Linked DNA regions of Homo sapiens. The protein of the gene in region 1 purifies or fractionates together with the protein of each later gene. This does not show direct contact. Each region holds a gene or a part of one and is shown on either strand. Other genes may lie near its edges.

Evidence for each region. Proteins that work in one complex are often made in the same cells at the same time.
Region 2: the proteins of FOXF1 (region 1) and SATB2 purify together in Homo sapiens (affinity purification with mass spectrometry; 2 studies listed by BioGRID and IntAct, with this or other methods). This does not show direct contact.

Annotation. Positions count from the first base shown.
Region 1 is NC_000016.10:86,505,619-86,514,439, forward strand, and holds the start of FOXF1 (forkhead box protein F1), read left to right. Parts: upstream 1-4,908; 5' UTR 4,909-4,951; coding exon 4,952-5,930; intron 5,931-7,306; coding exon 7,307-7,467; 3' UTR 7,468-8,821. UniProt on the Homo sapiens protein: Probable transcription activator for a number of lung-specific genes.
Region 2 is NC_000002.12:199,321,119-199,329,782, forward strand, and holds part of SATB2 (DNA-binding protein SATB2), read right to left. Parts: intron 7,793-8,664; coding exon 7,580-7,792; intron 2,841-7,579; coding exon 2,685-2,840; intron 1-2,684. UniProt on the Homo sapiens protein: Binds to DNA, at nuclear matrix- or scaffold-associated regions. Thought to recognize the sugar-phosphate structure of double-stranded DNA.

The DNA of each region.
Region 1 (8,821 bases):
GTCGGGTCCTGGCTGGCCGCCCTACCTTGAGGCGTCGTTTGAACCTCGCCTCGCGGGGGGTTGGAGGGAGCGGGGGCGGGCGAGGAGGGCGCGGGCCCGGCGTTAATGCGGAGCGGGGGCGGCGGCGGCCGGCGGGGCGGCTGCCCTCGCGGTGGGTGGTCGGCGGCCCCCTGCCCCGCCCGCGCGGCCGGCCTGGGCTCCCTCGGAGCGGGATCTGGTTCCCCGCTCGGGTTACGGCGCGCTCTCGGCCCGGGCGGCTTCGCTTAAGCAATTAGCTAGTAAAAATACCTTGGGCCTGGGGAGTGGGAGACGTTGCAGTCGTGTCCGTTTTTACACACCCACCCCCGCCCTGCTCGGCCAGTTTCAGGATTCCTGGGGCCAGAGATGGGGCGCAGATTTGTTTTGGGGTGGGAGGGGGCCGGTCTTCATGGATTTTAATCCAAGAGCAAAAGGCTGCCCGCGATCTCTGTCCCTGTCTGCATTTTCTCCTCCATCCCTGGAGCTGAGCCCCTGGGGTTTTTGTTTCTGTTTGTACAACCTAAGCCTTCCCTGCATGGTCTTGTCCAACCCTCTGTACGACCCCAAGAAATAGGAACCATGATGAGTTCCATTTTTCAGATAAAGAAACTAAGGTGCAAAGAGCTTATGCATCATCCTTACATGGTGGGGCGAGTTCAAATCCCCCTGCCTTTGGGGTTCGCGGCAGCGGGGCCCCTCTGCCCTGAGCACCGCTGAGCCTCACCCCGTGGTCAGGACACTTAACGCCCTGGTTCTGCAATCAGGCCAGGTTTGGATACTGGCTTTGCAGGGTGACCCAGGACCTGGAGTGACCTCGCAGAGCTCCAACTGTGAATGAGGAGGGAAATTATACTGACTTGGTAGGGGCATCGGTGAATATTACACAAGTCTCTTAGGGACACTTAACCAGTGTCCTGAGTTCATGGTTGGTGCCTCACAGGTTCACAGATGGGCTCCAGACATTTGGCGAAACCTTCAAAATCATTCTACGAATGTCACAAATATGCACCTTCTGGGGGCGGGGGCAGGTCGGACTAATTTTCAAAGGATTGACAGCCAAGAGGAAGGTTAGGAGCAGACAAGGGCAGTTCATCGAGTGAGGAGCAGCGCCTGGTGCCTGGGCAGCAGTGGATGAGCCTGTTATTATCTAGTATTCGTAGTTGTCATTGCTATTTTATCACCATCAGTTCCCCAACGGGGGCTCTCTGTCCCCTTGGCCCTGGGAAGCCAGGGCTGTGTAATGATGGCAGAGGCATTTCTAAGCCCCATTCTCTCCACTCCCCGCCTACACAGAGGCACATGGGAGAGTGAAACGCCAGGAAATTTTGTCCTTGGACGTAGAGAGGGGAGATGGAGAGTGTTCACCTCTCAGTGCTGGCTGATAAGAGATTCAAGTCCATGCTGAGCCTCAGTTTCTCCACCCTAAAAATGTAGGATCAAGGGAGACCTCTCAGGGACATTGTAAGAGCTGAGAATGAAGTCTCTGAGCATGAAGGAAAGCCCTTCTTGCTACGGCTGTGGTTTTCCCCAGAATTCAGGGGGTCCCCTCCAAATTACAGAGCTGGGAGCTCATTCGCCTCCTCTCTCACGCCCCCACTTCTACACACACCCAGCAGTAGAGATGAGCAGTTGGGGAGAGCCTCCATCTTTGGCCTTCCTGAGACTCCCAGGCCTACTGGGCCGGCTCTTTCGCTGGGCTCCGTGACTGGCTGTTCTGTAAGGTCTGGTTTGCTATCAGAGCCGGTGAAAGGGCAGAAAGAAGGGTGGAAAGGAGGGAAAAATGGATCTCCGGGTTAGCCAACGATGGGACCTGCGGCTTCCCTTCCCCAACTGAAGAGGGCCCAGGAGTGAAGGAGTCTGCTGGGAAAGGGCTCCCCAACTTCATGCTCTAGGGACCCGCTCACTTTGAAGGCGCCCCATGAGTGGGGGAGGGGCGAGGGGAAGGGAGATGCTATTTCCACTTTCAGCGAGCCGCAGCGTGCGCCCTGCACCCCTAGCTGGCTTAAGAGCTGTGCAGCCTTCTCTGCTCACCTCTGCTAAGGGCCAGATGTGCTCTGGCAGTCGGCAGTAGCGACCCCTTCCTGGGAACAGAACTTTCCTCCGGAGGCCAGGGTCTCCTCATCTGCAACTGCCATTTGCCACACACACACACACAAAAGTTGGGAGAGAATGTGAGAATGCTTGTGTTCGTGGACGCGTGCGCACGTATGGAGCGGCGGTACCTATGATTATTTGCGCGTGGCGCCTGGCTATGCGTGGGCGAACGCGCAGTGGAGAACATGTGGGCGTGCATGAAGTGTGCACTTAAACCAAAGTGTGCCCTCCCCGTTGGGCAGGCCTGTGTGTTGGTCCAAGGGTTGGGAGCGCCTGAGCTGTGTGAGGGTCGCTGGGAAGGGTGTTTGAGGCCGTGGGCGGTGCGGAGCGTGTCTGTGTGCGCGGAGGCTGAGCTGGTTGTGTGAAGTGGTAGCGGGTCTGCCAGAGAGCGTTTACCTGCGTGAATGCACAACCACACACTACGGGTCACGTCCCACACTCATTCTTTCCCTAGGCGGGCCAGGCTGTCTGCACGCGGAGACCCAGAGAGGCCAGCGGAAGGGCAGCGCGGGAAGGCGGCTCTCTTCTCCCGCGAGCGCAGATCTGGCGGAGGAGGCGGCGACTGCCCGGCAGGCTGCGCCGGCGAGCCCCCCAGCTCCTCTCACCGACGTGCCAGGCGCCCCGAAGGCGACAGGCGTCTCCCGCCGAAAATGAAGGCGTCCGAGCCAGGAAGGTGGGGGCGGGTAGTTAGCGGGAGACAAGGAGTCCGGAGAAAACCGAGAGGCGGGTAGGCTTTGAACGCGCCGCGCCGCGGGCCGTGCTGCGAGCCCGGCACACGCCTCTCGCCCCAGCTCGCGCTGGGGCTTGGCCTCTAGGCTCTTCGCGATGACCCGCGAAAACACCCCTCGCCCCCCTCTTCTCAACTCGGAACCCTGGAGGGAGAGGCCGCGCCCGGCCAGCAGTCGCTGCGAGAGCAGCACTCACCTGGGTCTGTGCGCGCCGCGATGCGCCGGGGCTCCTGCGCTGTCCTGCGCTCCGCTCTCGGCACCACCTTTCGTGGCTCCACCGCCCCCAGCCCGCACCCGAGCGCTGAGGTGGCAAGGGCAGGTCTGCGTGCGAGCCCCCTGCGGGCTGGCAGCCAGGTGCGCGAGGGCCGCCCTTGCCGGCGCTCCCAGCCCGCGCTGTCTGCTCTCAGGAACCTGGCCTGGCGCGCAGTGTCAGAGGCCCCGCGGCGGCGGCAGGCCGAGCCCACAGGGGCATTAGGCCAACTCCCCCCTCCCGCCCTGCGCACGCGGAATTCTCTATTATTATTATTAAAGAATCCCCCAGAACTTGTTTACGTTAAACCCTGTAAACTTCCTGCCAGGGCCTTTGCCATCTCTCGGGAAATCGGAACCTGCGCTTTGAAAACGGGGCCGCGGGGCCAAATAGGCGGGTTTTCAGTGTGTGTTGGGGGTGGGGGAGGGCAACTGAACTACGTGTGAGTTCAGATCCGAGCGTGGCGTGTGTACGCGTGAGTGGGAGTGAGTGCGAACTTAAGCTCCTGTGGGCCTTAAGCTTCCGTGTCAACGAGTGCATTAGTGGGTGCGCACATGCCTGAGCGCCCTCTGCATATGAGTGTGCACACACGCATGGGTGTGTTTACACGTCTGTTTGCGTAATTTACCGGGTTTGCATGTGCATCAAGACATGTATGTGTGTGCTAATGTGTGGACAAGAGCGCGAGGGTGTGCGCGCACGGGTGAGTGACTGAGCACGCCGCTTATTCAGGGGCCTGTGCGGTCTGGGTCGCCTCTGGGCCAGCGGGTTCTCACTCGCCCCCGTCAGGCCCGCGGCGCCCGAGACAAAGCGGCCGCGACTCGTGCTGCGCTTTCGTTTTCCGCCTGCGCTCTGCCCCGGCGGCTGCCCGCCCGCTCGCAAGCTGCTGGGCGAGTCCGAAAAATCCCGGGAGCGGCGCAGTTCTTCCCGGGGCGGGGAGAGTGGGTAGGCGGTCCCTCGCGGGAACTTAGCCGGCCGGCCGCGAGGACCGGAGTCGAGCCGGCTGTGCCTGCGATGGTCACGACCGGGAGGCCGCCGCACTTGCGATTTGCTACAGGGCTGTGCGCGTCGGGGAAGGCCCCGGCCCAGGGAGCGTTTCCCGCCGCGCCGCCCGGGCGGGGAAGGCGGGGTCCAGCGCGCACCGGGGCTGAACCGCGGGCGGAGGGCGCATTAACACTTGCTCGCCAGGTTGGTGGAGGCGGGGCGGATTCTGCTGGCGGCCGCGGGGCGGCGAGAGTGGGGGCTCTTTAAGCGCCCACCAACGCGGGGGCCCGAGGGGGGCAGGGACGGAGGGAGGGAACTCCGGGAGGGTCTTAGGCCGACCCGCGAGACGCAGCCGAGCGGAGATGGAGTGAAGGCTGCCTCGCCCGGAATCTCGGAGCCGAGCGCCGCGGGCGGCGGGGACTCAGGGCTGCTCCCGGCTGGGGCGCACGGCCGTAAGACCTGGAGGTGGTGCCTCCCCCCAAAAAATACCGGCGGGGGTAGCTTCCTCACGGCCTTCGCCCGGGCTGCCCTCGGCCTCAGCTCGGCTCCTTTCCTTGTGGGAGGGCGAGAAAGAAAGAGGGAGGAGAGAGGTGGGGGAGGCGGGAGTTGGAGAGAGAGGGGCTCTGAGCCAACCGCCGGCGGATCCAGCAGCTCCTCGGGGAGGGCGGGCGGGAGCGCGGGGGCGGGCGCGCCGCGGCTCGCTCGGGAGAAGTGGCCGCCGATGACGGCAGAGGTGCAGCCAGCCCCGCGCGCGCAGCCCCCTCCCCTTCGCCCTCCTCCCCCCCGTCGTCCTCTTCCTCCTCCTCCTCCTCCTCCTCCCGGCCCGTCCGCGGCGCAGAGCAGCGGCGGCAGCGGCGGCGGCGGCAGCAGCCACCCGATGTCTTCGGCGCCCGAGAAGCAGCAGCCACCGCACGGCGGCGGCGGCGGCGGCGGCGGGGGAGGCGGCGCGGCCATGGACCCCGCGTCGTCCGGCCCGTCCAAGGCCAAGAAGACCAACGCCGGCATCCGGCGCCCGGAGAAGCCGCCCTATTCCTACATCGCGCTCATCGTCATGGCCATCCAGAGTTCACCCACCAAGCGCCTGACGCTGAGCGAGATCTACCAGTTCCTGCAGAGCCGCTTCCCCTTCTTCCGGGGCTCCTACCAGGGCTGGAAGAACTCCGTGCGCCACAACCTCTCGCTCAACGAGTGCTTCATCAAGCTACCCAAGGGCCTTGGGCGGCCCGGCAAGGGCCACTACTGGACCATCGACCCGGCCAGCGAGTTCATGTTCGAGGAGGGCTCCTTTCGGCGGCGGCCGCGCGGCTTCCGAAGGAAATGCCAGGCGCTCAAGCCCATGTACAGCATGATGAACGGGCTCGGCTTCAACCACCTCCCGGACACCTACGGCTTCCAGGGCTCGGCCGGCGGCCTCTCGTGCCCGCCCAACAGCCTGGCGCTGGAGGGCGGCCTGGGCATGATGAACGGCCACTTGCCGGGCAACGTGGACGGCATGGCCCTGCCCAGCCACTCGGTGCCCCACCTGCCTTCCAACGGCGGCCACTCGTACATGGGCGGCTGCGGCGGCGCGGCGGCCGGCGAGTACCCGCACCACGACAGCTCGGTGCCCGCCTCCCCGCTGCTGCCCACCGGCGCCGGTGGGGTCATGGAGCCGCACGCCGTCTACTCGGGCTCGGCGGCGGCCTGGCCGCCCTCGGCGTCCGCGGCGCTCAACAGCGGCGCCTCTTATATCAAGCAGCAGCCCCTGTCCCCCTGTAACCCCGCGGCCAACCCCCTGTCCGGCAGCCTCTCCACGCACTCCCTGGAGCAGCCGTATCTGCACCAGAACAGCCACAACGCCCCAGCCGAGCTGCAAGGTGAGTGGGGAGGCCGAGGGCGCCCTGGTCCCCGGGAAGTCGAGTCTGAGTGGCAGCGGGACCCAGCTGGGGCGAGCCCCTCCACTTCTGTGGTCGGAACCCCAAGGCTGAGGGGAGGCACCAGCTCCCCAAGGTGTCTCTTGGCCCCACCTCTCCCCCTTCGAAGAGTGACTACCGCTCTTGACCCTAGTTTGGGCCAATCTGTTTCTCTTTCTGTTCGAACTCCAGCTGCCAGCTGCTCCAGGCCTGACCAGGTAGGCTGGTCCTGAGCCAGATGTCCCAGACCCCAGTGCCCTAAGTCCTTTTGTGTCCCTTAAGTCCCCTCACAGCTTGGAAAGATCCTGGGATGGACCCAAGGCTCCCAGCGCTGGCCAGATGGCTGTCCCTCCCTGGTGGTGGCCCTCAGGCTGCCTGGAGGGCTGCCTCTGCCTGGGGCTGGGCGGAACGGAAGGTGTTAGGCCCAAAGCCGCTGGGCCAGCGCTCAGAGGCTCAGCCCCGGCCTTTCAGGGGACCAGACCTGGCAGACCCACAGCTGAGTCCAGGGGCATTTTGTGGTGACTGAGGCAGGAGGGTGCCGTGGCCAGGCCCCGGAGGGTCAGAGCTGCAGACCGGGCCATGGGGGCTCCTTGTTTTTTAGGATCCAAGTTTTCAGGTCCCCACACCCCCAACACCCCTGATACCCCAATACCCCGAACATGCAGAAGCATCTGCCAAGGGAGATGCAGCAGCCTCGCCTCCTGATTCTGCCCCAGGCCCCCCGCAGCCTGCAGGCCCAGCTCTGGAAAAAGCTGGAGTGAGCTTGCCAGGGCCAGTCCAGGGTCAGCTGTCAGCAGCCCCAGGAGGCAGGAGCCAGGCCTGGAGGCCTTAGGCAGCCTCTCTGCGGGGGACTCCCCGGCTCCGGGGCCTGTTCTCTGGAGAAGCTTCTTCTCACCCCTGCTGCTGGCCCGGCGCTGGCCCTGCACTGGCCTCTCCTTCAACCCCGCCGGCAGTCGTAGCCTCTGAGGTTGGGGGTGGTGGTGGCTGCCCTGGCGGTGACGGCCATGGGCGTTAGGGGCCCTCCACTTGGTCTCCCTCACCACTTCCCCTATGGCTCTGGAAGCCCTGGGCCCCTGCACGGTGTCCGAGGCTGGACAGGCACGCAGCAGGCAGGCAGGCAGGCAGGCAGGCAGGCCGTGGCAAGTGTTCTGGAGTCTTTTCCTTGGGTGCGCAGCTGGAAGGCCGGGACTCGGGGAGGAGAGCGGGGAGGCGGCCGTGCTCTGGAGCCAGGCTGACAGGCCCTGTGCGCCCCACGGGAGCACTGCTCCTCTGCCTGAACTCTGAGCCACCGTGGCTAACTCTTCTGCTCCCCCAACCCCTCCTGTCGCCTCGCCTTGCAGGCATCCCGCGGTATCACTCGCAGTCGCCCAGCATGTGTGACCGAAAGGAGTTTGTCTTCTCTTTCAACGCCATGGCGTCCTCTTCCATGCACTCGGCCGGCGGGGGCTCCTACTACCACCAGCAGGTCACCTACCAAGACATCAAGCCTTGCGTGATGTGAGGCTGCCGCCGCAGGCCCTCCTGGTGCAGGCAGGCGGGTCACAGGGACCCTGGACCGGCACAAGAAACTGCTTTCTTCTCGAGGTATAACCGTCGGCAGAAGAAAAGGGTTCCACCTCTCCCCAACCGGAGTTTTTGGCAAGGAGTCCCCAATGCAAAGACACAGCGCTGCGGTTGGCACCTCCTTCCTCACTCCTTCAAAATTGTTAAGAAATGTTAGTGGTGGGTCTGATCTGACTGCAGCCATCGGTAAATAAAAGTTTTTGATCCTGTTGAACCCGCCTGAGACGGTGCTGTGCAGGGGAAAGCCCCCGCACCCACACAGGAATTCTGCTGAGGTCCCCCCTCCTTCCGGCCAATGGCAGAAGTGGGGGAAAATTTTTAGAAGAAAAGCAAACATGTGAGACCAATCATTATCAAATACTTTTATTTTTTGGTTGAGTATTTATCTTTTTATTTTTTATTTTTTTTTTGAAAGAATGTCTTGGAATGCGCAAGTCTCCCTTTAGAGCCGTCTTTTGCAGGGAGCGGGAAGTGACAAGAGCTCAGATCTCCCTCCCGATCTCCCTCCCCACCTCCGAAGTCTCCTCCGTGGACCACAGGTGGATCTTTGTGCGAACAACTTGCATTTCGGAAGCCACTGTCCGTCTTTAAACAGAAAGTCAAAGGAGCCACGAAGCAAGCGGCCGTCCGGGCGTCCGCCTCCGTCCCCTTCCATGTTCCTCCTCTTCCTTCGCTTCAGCCTCTTCTGTTATGTTTTGTCTTGAATTTTATTTAGACTTTTTCAGTGGGTATTTTTCTGTCTCCCAACCTCTACTGTAAACTTTCTGGTCCGAGAACGAGCCGAACACAGCGCGACGCAGGGACTAGGACGGCCCGGTGACCGCGCGGATTCAGGATTGCGGGGACGCAGAAAGGTTAAGGCACTTTTAAAAACTATAGCAAGGCTCCTGTTTATTTATTCTACTTTCTTTCCCTAATAATCAAAACACCGCGTAGGCTCCTCCGTTTATCAGTATTAATGGTGTAACTTTGTTGGCAATATTTGCCGTGTAGAATTTTTTTTAGATATCCATTGTAAATTTGAAACAAAGACCGATCTGTGTAAAAACAAATTTCCATATGTTTTATATAAATATATATATAATATGAAGGACTACCCTCCTTTTTTTTTTTTGTATTTTGGCTGCTAGAGTGCAGCATTTGTGACACGTATTTGAAATTTGAAATTTCCTTCTGCACTGTATAAAAGGACCATTTGAGGATGTTTTGCCTTTTGTGTATTTTTTCCTAAAAAAAGAACAAAAATAAAAATGTATAACATTTGTACATGGCCTTTAAAATTGTATCAACTA
Region 2 (8,664 bases), on another chromosome or scaffold:
TTGTTCCTCTCCGTCCTCACAATACAATGGAGTGGGTGTGGCCACTCCCCTCTGCAGCTTGAAAAGGTTAAGTCCTATGATTAGTCATGACTAAGAGAGATATATAAGTCTATAAGGTGTATATATATGACTAAGATATATATATCCATAAGGTGTATGTATGTGTATGCATATGTATAGACATATATATACACGTCTATGTATAGACATATATGTATGTACATATGTCTATGTATAGATATATATGTATGTCTATACATAGACATATATATGTCTATATACACACACAGATACACCTTATGGATATATATATATCTCAGTCTCATATATACACCTTATAGATTTATATATGTATACACATACATGTATATATGTGTATATACACATACATGTATATACACACATATACATATATACATATATGTGTATATATATACACACATACACACACATGTACACACAGGTACACACACATAGATACACCTTATGGATAGCCACCAAATATATATGCCATGTACCAAATCATGCAATTGATTTCACTAAATGTACTTTTTATCAAATGAATACTGATACTTATAAAATGGAGTGAATATCTTTTGTTAAATTGCCTTTGAAACTGCCAATTAAATTCATTTTGTTTGGCAGTATCATTTTTAAAAAAAAAACATAATAAACATAGTGCCTGAATTGCCTATCTAGTCAGCTATTTACAATAAGGTTCCCCACTCATAGATGAAAATGAGATCATTGTCCCAGTGAAAAAGGAACAACCTCAAAGCATCTTATCCTCACTTAAGCTCAATCTTACCTTCAGCATATTAATTCCCAGAACTATGTTCTTCTCCAAATTCTACGAAATCAGGGCTACTGATTTCTTCAGGAGACATCAAAAATTTGGAGAGCTAAGCTTCTGCCAGTTGGCAAAAGCAGCTTTCAATCAGCTACCTGAATTATTTTAGGAGGCTGGAGGCATCACTATTTCCAAAAGCCATACTGCTAAATCAACAGGAAGATTACAGGCTTTTGGAATCAAGTTCTCAGACTGTGGTCTTCAGTTTTTCTTGAAAGCTGCTTATAAAAGAAGGACTGTGTGAAACTTTGATATTTACATCAAGTCACAACTAAGGGGCAGGTTTGCAAAATCAATTGTGCAGCTTTTATACTCACTGCACATTTACCACATATGTCCTTTATTACACAGTGGAAAACCATTAAATGCACAGTAGTTTTGCCAAGTGGCATTATGCATTTAACAGCTTTATTCGTTTAACAGCTCCAACTCTCATTATATTTTGCCATGTGGTACATGGGATTTTATGCATTTAACAGTTTAAGAAGGCTCTATGGTATTTTCTTTTCATGTATTTCATACTATGGTTGGACATTATGTCTTAGCAAACTGTATTTCACTGATTTCATTGAAGAGAGAAAGTCAGAGTAATCTGGAAAACTTACTACACTGAAATTGAAAAGGGAAACAAACATTTCAATCCCTTTCCAAGTTCCTTGATATTCTACTCCCCTCCTTTTATCAACATCTAAAAATAACCTATATCAGGTTAAAACTGCAGGTAAAGAAGGCTAACCCTGTACTCTATAATTAATCTAAATATAACATTTAACTACAGTTTGAAGTTTTTCAGTTTTAAAAATTTAATTTTTATTGAAAACCTTCTTGCTTAATAGAAATACAATACTCAGTCACTTCCTTTCTTTATAGCACACAACAGAAGATTTGTTAGGGAGATGATCAACCATTTGATTATTTACATATGTAGGGATGAAAACATTTGTCATATAAGGACACAGAGGAAATCAAGCTCAGAATCAAAGGACTCTCAAAATTATGCTTTAACTAACTTTTATTTCCTCCACTCTGCATTAGGTGTTCGCCCTAGGTATACATAAGTGAGCATGCACCTCAAACCTAGGATTCTAGGTTTGGGCAGAAGTTGTCCCTTTAAATGAAGAATTGAAGCAGATAGTAGATCCCATCAACTGTTGCTGCTTTCAGAAATAAAAAACCTAAGCATCTGTCTGCTCTTTTCCCCAGAGCATTACATTCTCCACAATCCCAGAACTCTGAAAAATTTTACTGGATAAGCTTCTGTGTTTTTCTGTTAAAAGATTTTAGCACTTACTCTGCACTCCCCCCACGTGTGTTTTCTCCTGAAAAAATCAACTGTATTCTGTACATAAAAGAAACACCTGACATCAAAAGGTGTCTCTGGGGCTGGGGAAAAGTGGTTATTATAACAGAGTTGGACATTCCCCTTGTGGGAACAGGAAAGGTGATGAGACTTGGCTAAAACTTGGTCTCAGAAAGGTGCTGTTATATACATTCTAAGTTTTGTTCATACACACACACACACACACACACACACACACACATATATAAAGGGAGAGAAACAAAAGGGTACATTGCAGTGTTTAGAATAAGGAGAGAAATCATTCGAGGCTAATTTTTTTTAATCTTTAAAAGAAAAAAGGTCAAGTTTTGGCTTCATCTCTATTTTGAACTCCAATGGGAATAAAAGCAAACTAGAGTAAAAGGCAGAACATGACAGGTTTCTTGGGGGTTATTACTGTTATTATTATTATAGGAACAGATGTATTTTTATTGGTGGAGGAAGGAGAAGGATCTAATTCCAGCCCTCGATTTTGCTTTTTTAAAAACCACTCACCTGACTTTTATTTGCAGCCACTTTGGCAAACAGGGCTTGAGACACCTTGGCCCTTTTCATCTCCTGTTGGATCTCGTCATAAATGGCAGCTGTGATGTTGATGTTGGCGCCGTCCACCTTAATAGGGAGGTCTGTTGTCGGTGTCGAGGTTTTGGCCTACCAAGAGACCATGAAAATAATAATTTAAAAAGTGCTGCATTCAGCCCAGCCATCTGTGCAGAAATTATCAAAGGATTTCAGTCAGCTGATGCCAAACTGCATTAGCTACAGAGGGACACTTCCTGTCCATTATTCTAATCAGGTTAATTGTGATTGGAAATAATTGCAGTGCATTCCTATAGGACATGCAGAATCCTGTCAACCCTGTTCTCTCACAGCATCCCAGACGAAGGTTCACAGGTAGGATGGCTCTCCTAGACACCAAACTATAAGCAACCATCTAACTACAAAACAAACATGCAGAACACACACACAGTTAACCTTTTCTTTCTAAAAATGGCACACCTTGGAATAAGAGCCAATTCTTCCAGAAAAAAAATAAGTAAATGGGTAGAGGTCTCTAAATAATAAATTATTACTCAATTTAATGCACTCCCAAGTCTCTCTTATTCTTTATTAAAGCTTTACATATGTCATTCGAGTATGTATGGTTTCCCATCATTATCATCATTATGCTACCCAGACAGTCACCTAATTTCACCTAGGAAATCAGTGGAAATGAAACAAAATTTCATTTCATAAAACTAGGCTTCACAATGCCTTTGATGTGCCGTTTTCATTTTCTTAAACTCATATTGCGGTTTTATGTATTCTGCAGTGCTCGTTTTAATTGAATGATTTCCCATCAGCTTCAGAGACAAATGAAGGACAATATAGAAGTCTGTACTTCTTGGGGTTAGGATAACCCTAAAATGTCTGAATCTACTTAATCCAAAAGACGGTCATAACATTTACTTGGTGTGAGCCCTAGAATGCATTGCTGGTGTCTAATAAGAGAGGGCTGAGACATTTTCTTAGAACCTCTGGCAGCAAGATTTCAGGAAAAGACATCCTTGATCCTTGTGCACTACCAGCCGAATTGGCCTAACCTGGGTTTTTTCTCTTTGTCCCCATTCACCCTAGAATCTCAAACCAACAGAGTTATCTCCAAATCACAAGTTTCCCTGTGCGGATGCCCTGAGCTGTTCTCTACTGGATCCAGCAGTATGCAGGTCCAGAGAAAGATGTAACAGGCAGTGTGGACTCTGTGACAAATGGTGTCTAGCGGCAGAACTTAAGGCCCTACGTTTCCATAAAGGCTTTGCTTCCTAACAGTGCTCAGTAACTTCTGCCATTTTTCTTCTACCTCCTTCTCTCATACTATTTTCTAATTACCGCAAAGCAATAATTACTATAATTTATGGCGTGCTTTTTATGGGCCAGGTACTCCAGAAAGCATTTTAACATTTGTTTTCACATTTAATTCTTTTAAGATTCCAATGAGTTAGATATTATTATTTTCATCTTACAGATGAAGAAACTGAAATAAAAGAGGATCTTAACCTAGGACACCCAGCAGCCAGTGAAGGAACCATGATCTGAACGCAAGTCTTTCAGGCTCAAAAACATGGGCTCAGGACACTGCACTACACACTGCCTCCAAAATCTCCAATTTATGCCAGGTGCTGTTGTAAGAATTTTCTTGCTATGTTGGGACTTTCCCATTAAAAATTCAATTATCTGTAATTTTTTAAAATAAACTATTTGTTCTGCTCAAAATTTCTAGTTAACCCACAGTGCTTTCCCTGTTAAGAGAACGTTTTAGCATAGCATGTCTGCCCTTTCTCAATTCAGTTTTCTTAATTTGCCTCACTGACTATCTCATCCTACCTGATTGGTCAAGCCTTCTCTCCAACCATGAGGGCTAAGACGAAACCCCTCAGCCATGTGCCCTTACACAAGTTACTGAATCCATCTAAACCTCAGTTCCCTCATCTGTAAAATGGGCATAATACCATAAAATGGTGACAACTGAATTCATGCAAAATGTTCACAACACCTAATACACAGTAAGCGTTTTAACAAATGATCATTCTTATCTTAGTATTGTTTTGTCATTATTAAGTACACCATGGAATGCTGGCCAGCTGAAGAAATAAAAAGAGACTGGAGGTATAATTTCAAATTTCAAATTTCTTCAATTTGTTTTTCAGCTACTAATAAAGTATAGATGGGGTCTGGAAAATAATCTCCCTGCATCAATGTCAAGCTGCTTGTGTGCACTAAATTGCTGACTCCAACTAAAAGGCTGAGTCAGTGAGTACTCCTCTAATACTTGTTCTCACAATAAAATCTGTACTGTACTACGATCTTTACTGTTGAGATATGACTGTAAAGAATTTTAAGTCAGTAATCATGAAATGTTTTAAAAGACTTTAATAAACTCTCCTTTCTCAATCTTTACCCAAGAGAAAAAGACAATTCTAGAGAATGTACAAATGCAATGCCATGACCGTATTCTCAAAAACATGTTTAAATATTTATTTTCAAAAATATCAAAACTGTGATATTAAATAAGAGATTTCCCTGCTACACCTATCCCTAAAGGGCATCTGTATGAATTTTCTAGATGGCATTCTGGTCAAAATAAGCAAAATACTGACCCTAACTGTGGGGCCTTGTAAGTCAGTCTGGCACTGAAAGCTATTAGGTCTTTGAAAAGGTGCCTACGATATATAATCTTGTTAGGAAAATAGTACAAAAGAGCTGAAAACAAATACACAGACCTGTGTTAATTTCTAACAAGCAGAAGTAACTTTCTAAGAAGAGCTGCCTTGTCAAATGGCCATGAAGTATGCCTGGGCTCTTCTATAATGGTTTAATGGGCTTCAAAAGTGGCAAAAATATTGATGAATTTAGCAGAAGTAAATATTAGTGCACATTAACAACTTGCCCAACTTACTAGCTCAGTATGTATGTCCCCAGATTTTTTTTTAAGTAAACAAAAATGCTTGGTTATACTCATCCAAAGTAAGCAGTCAAGAGACTTATTTTTGGTTCAAACAGTAACTAAAACTCATAATTCACTAAAGACTGAAGTGTAAGTAACACAATTTGGCAGTGCATGATAGAAAGTAATCTTCAATTAAAAGTTTATTGCAGAGTACAAAAATATAAAAAGAGTTAAAATGTGTGAAAAAATGGATATACTTGAAAAAGCTCAAATATTTCTACTAGGATACAATTCTGCTTCTATGCTTAATCAGTTCCTTAGAATTTATCAGAAAACGCAAAACCAAAGCTATAATATCTAAGCAAAACAACCTTTGGTTTTGAACCGCCCATTTTTCAGCTTTGTATAAATGTATATCCATTAGGTCGGGCACGGTGGCTCATGCCTGTAATCCCAGCACTTTGCAAGGCCGAGGTGGGCAGATTACTTGAGGTCAGGAGTTCGAGACCAGCATGGACAACATGGTGAAACCCAACCTCTACTAAAAATACAAAAAATTACCCTGGTGTGGTGGCATGTGCCTGTAATCCCAGCTACTCGGGAGGCCGAGGCAGGAGAATCACTTGAACCTGAGAAGCAGAGGCTGCAGTAAGCCATGATCACACCACTGCACTCCAGCCTGGGCAACAAAGTGAGACTCCTTCTCAAAAACAAACAAAAAAAATTTATACCTGTTAAATACTGGTTTTGAGAATTAGCACTCAGACAGAACCTGCAACTATCATAGCAACAGTGAACGGACTGGCCTTATCATAAATCTATCGAGTAGTAAAAGTTTAGGGGAAATAGGGGATAGGCCAGAAATGAGTGGGCTTGGATGTGAACTAGAAATGACCCCTGACTGCCTTGAGACCTTGACCCTTGAGTTAGGAGCTTTGAAGCACACATTACTAGATGTATACATTTGCATGAGGGCCTAAGAAAAGAATACTTTTCAAGTGTGTGGAGAGGAAGAATGGAAGTCACCAAATTCTGTGGGGAGATCATCCTAGGATGGAAAATAATTAAGGCCTACCTTTCCACCATCATTTTCTAAAGGATCATTGAGTGACATCTCAGTCATTCTGATCTGGACACTGCATATGCATGCTTCCACTGCAAGTGTTCCTCCATTTTGTCTTTTTCAGATTACATAAAACAGAGCTTCAACTACCCTCTGCCCCCTGCCCTCAGCCACCTCTACCCCATCCAGCCCAACCAAATAAACATACAATTTGAGGGAAAGCAGTGTGCTTGCTATGCAAACTCAGCTTCAACACAAATGCCCTAACTCCTAACTGAGCAGCTATGTATAAACATCCTAGAGCCCGCCCCTGTGCCCACTCCTACCTTCCTACCCCTCACCTACCACGTATGGAAGAATGGGACTTCCTAAAGGGACAGAAATATAGTATGGGATCATATATGGTCAGAAGTTCATATCCTCTGACCAACATGTTCAGCGGATTAAGAAATCATAGAATTGGCCATGGACGGTGGCTCACGCCTGTAATCCCAGCACTTTGGGAGACCAAGGCAAGCGGATCACCTGAGGTCAGGAGTTCGAGAAGAGCCTGGCCAACATGGTGAAACCCCATCCCTACAAAAAATACAAAAATTAGCAGGGCATGGTGGTTGGTGCCTCTAATGCCAGCTACTTGGGAGGCTGAGACAGGAGAATTCCTTGAACCCAGGAGGCGGAGGCTGCAGTGAGCCGAGATCATGCTACTGCACTCCAGCCTGTGTGACAAAGCAAGACTCCATCTCAAAAAAATTAAAATAAAATAAAATAAAATAAGAAAAGAAAAAAAGGAAAGAAATCCTTGAATTATGTCTCTCAATGTTTGAGGGAAAACACAGTAACTAGTGAAGGCAAGATGTTTCCAAGACAAAGAGTGAAAAATACGGAAAGCAAGTTTCTCACCTGAGGGGTTCGGGAGGAGCTGGGACTGCTGGAGGCCGAGGAGACCATGCTCACATTGGGATTCATGCTCCGCTCCCTCTCATCCTGGTAGATGCGATCTCGCTCCACTTCTGGCAGATTGAGGAAATTCTGCATGGCCCTCAGGTTTACTAGAAGAGACTGAGAGGCTGTCCGAGGGTCTTCTTCCTTACGCAGAATCTCAGACAACAATCCCTGATTAAATGGGGGAAAAAAACAGACCAAGTCACATTTGCAGGTATATGTGTGTGGTTTCTGTCTTCCACCCCTCTCCTCCTTTGTTTGGTTTAACCAGCTCGCTGTGATGTCAAGAACCTCACACTAATTCCTTAGGGTTCTCCGATATGAAGTCAATGTGCTTGCCTTCCGGGGGATATGCATTATTTTAGGACTGTTCTATTCTGACACTTTATCATCACTGTAATAATCATCAGTGTACAGACATGCCAGCTAGCAAGGTAGGCACTTGGGAAGAATTGTGAAACTGCAATTACCACCAGGTGCCTCCTACAAGTATTTCAGGAACTGTTAGAACTCTCTCTGCTTGAAACTGGGAACACTTGGCAGTCCTGCTTAGCTTTACAAATCTGCCAAGTTTGGTAAATTTAGTTTCGACATTTAAACAGCATGGTAGATTTACATCAATTTAAAAAAAAAACTGGCTGAATTTCTGTATGACCGGCCACTGTTTTCAATAGAGATATTTCTTATGCAAAAAAAAAAAAAAAAAGACGCAAAGCAAATGGCTAAATTGTGTTAACCCTCTGATAATTTCCCAATCTATACACACAATAGTTATCCTTACATATGTACAAAGGGCACCCAAATCTTTCATGAGACGTCTTCATGGGGGAAACCCTAATGTCACCATTAAAGCAATGAAAATGAAGTCACCTCTGGCGAGGGGCTGAGCACACTGTAATAACAGTGTGCACGGAATGCCATGATAGGCCCAGATACTTTCTGAATGTGTGACTCACCCAAATAGAAAGATTTAAATAGGAAGTCAGGGTTTTCATGTGCTCTGACGACAGAGAATTCACAAAGAAAAGGAAAATGCTGCCAAG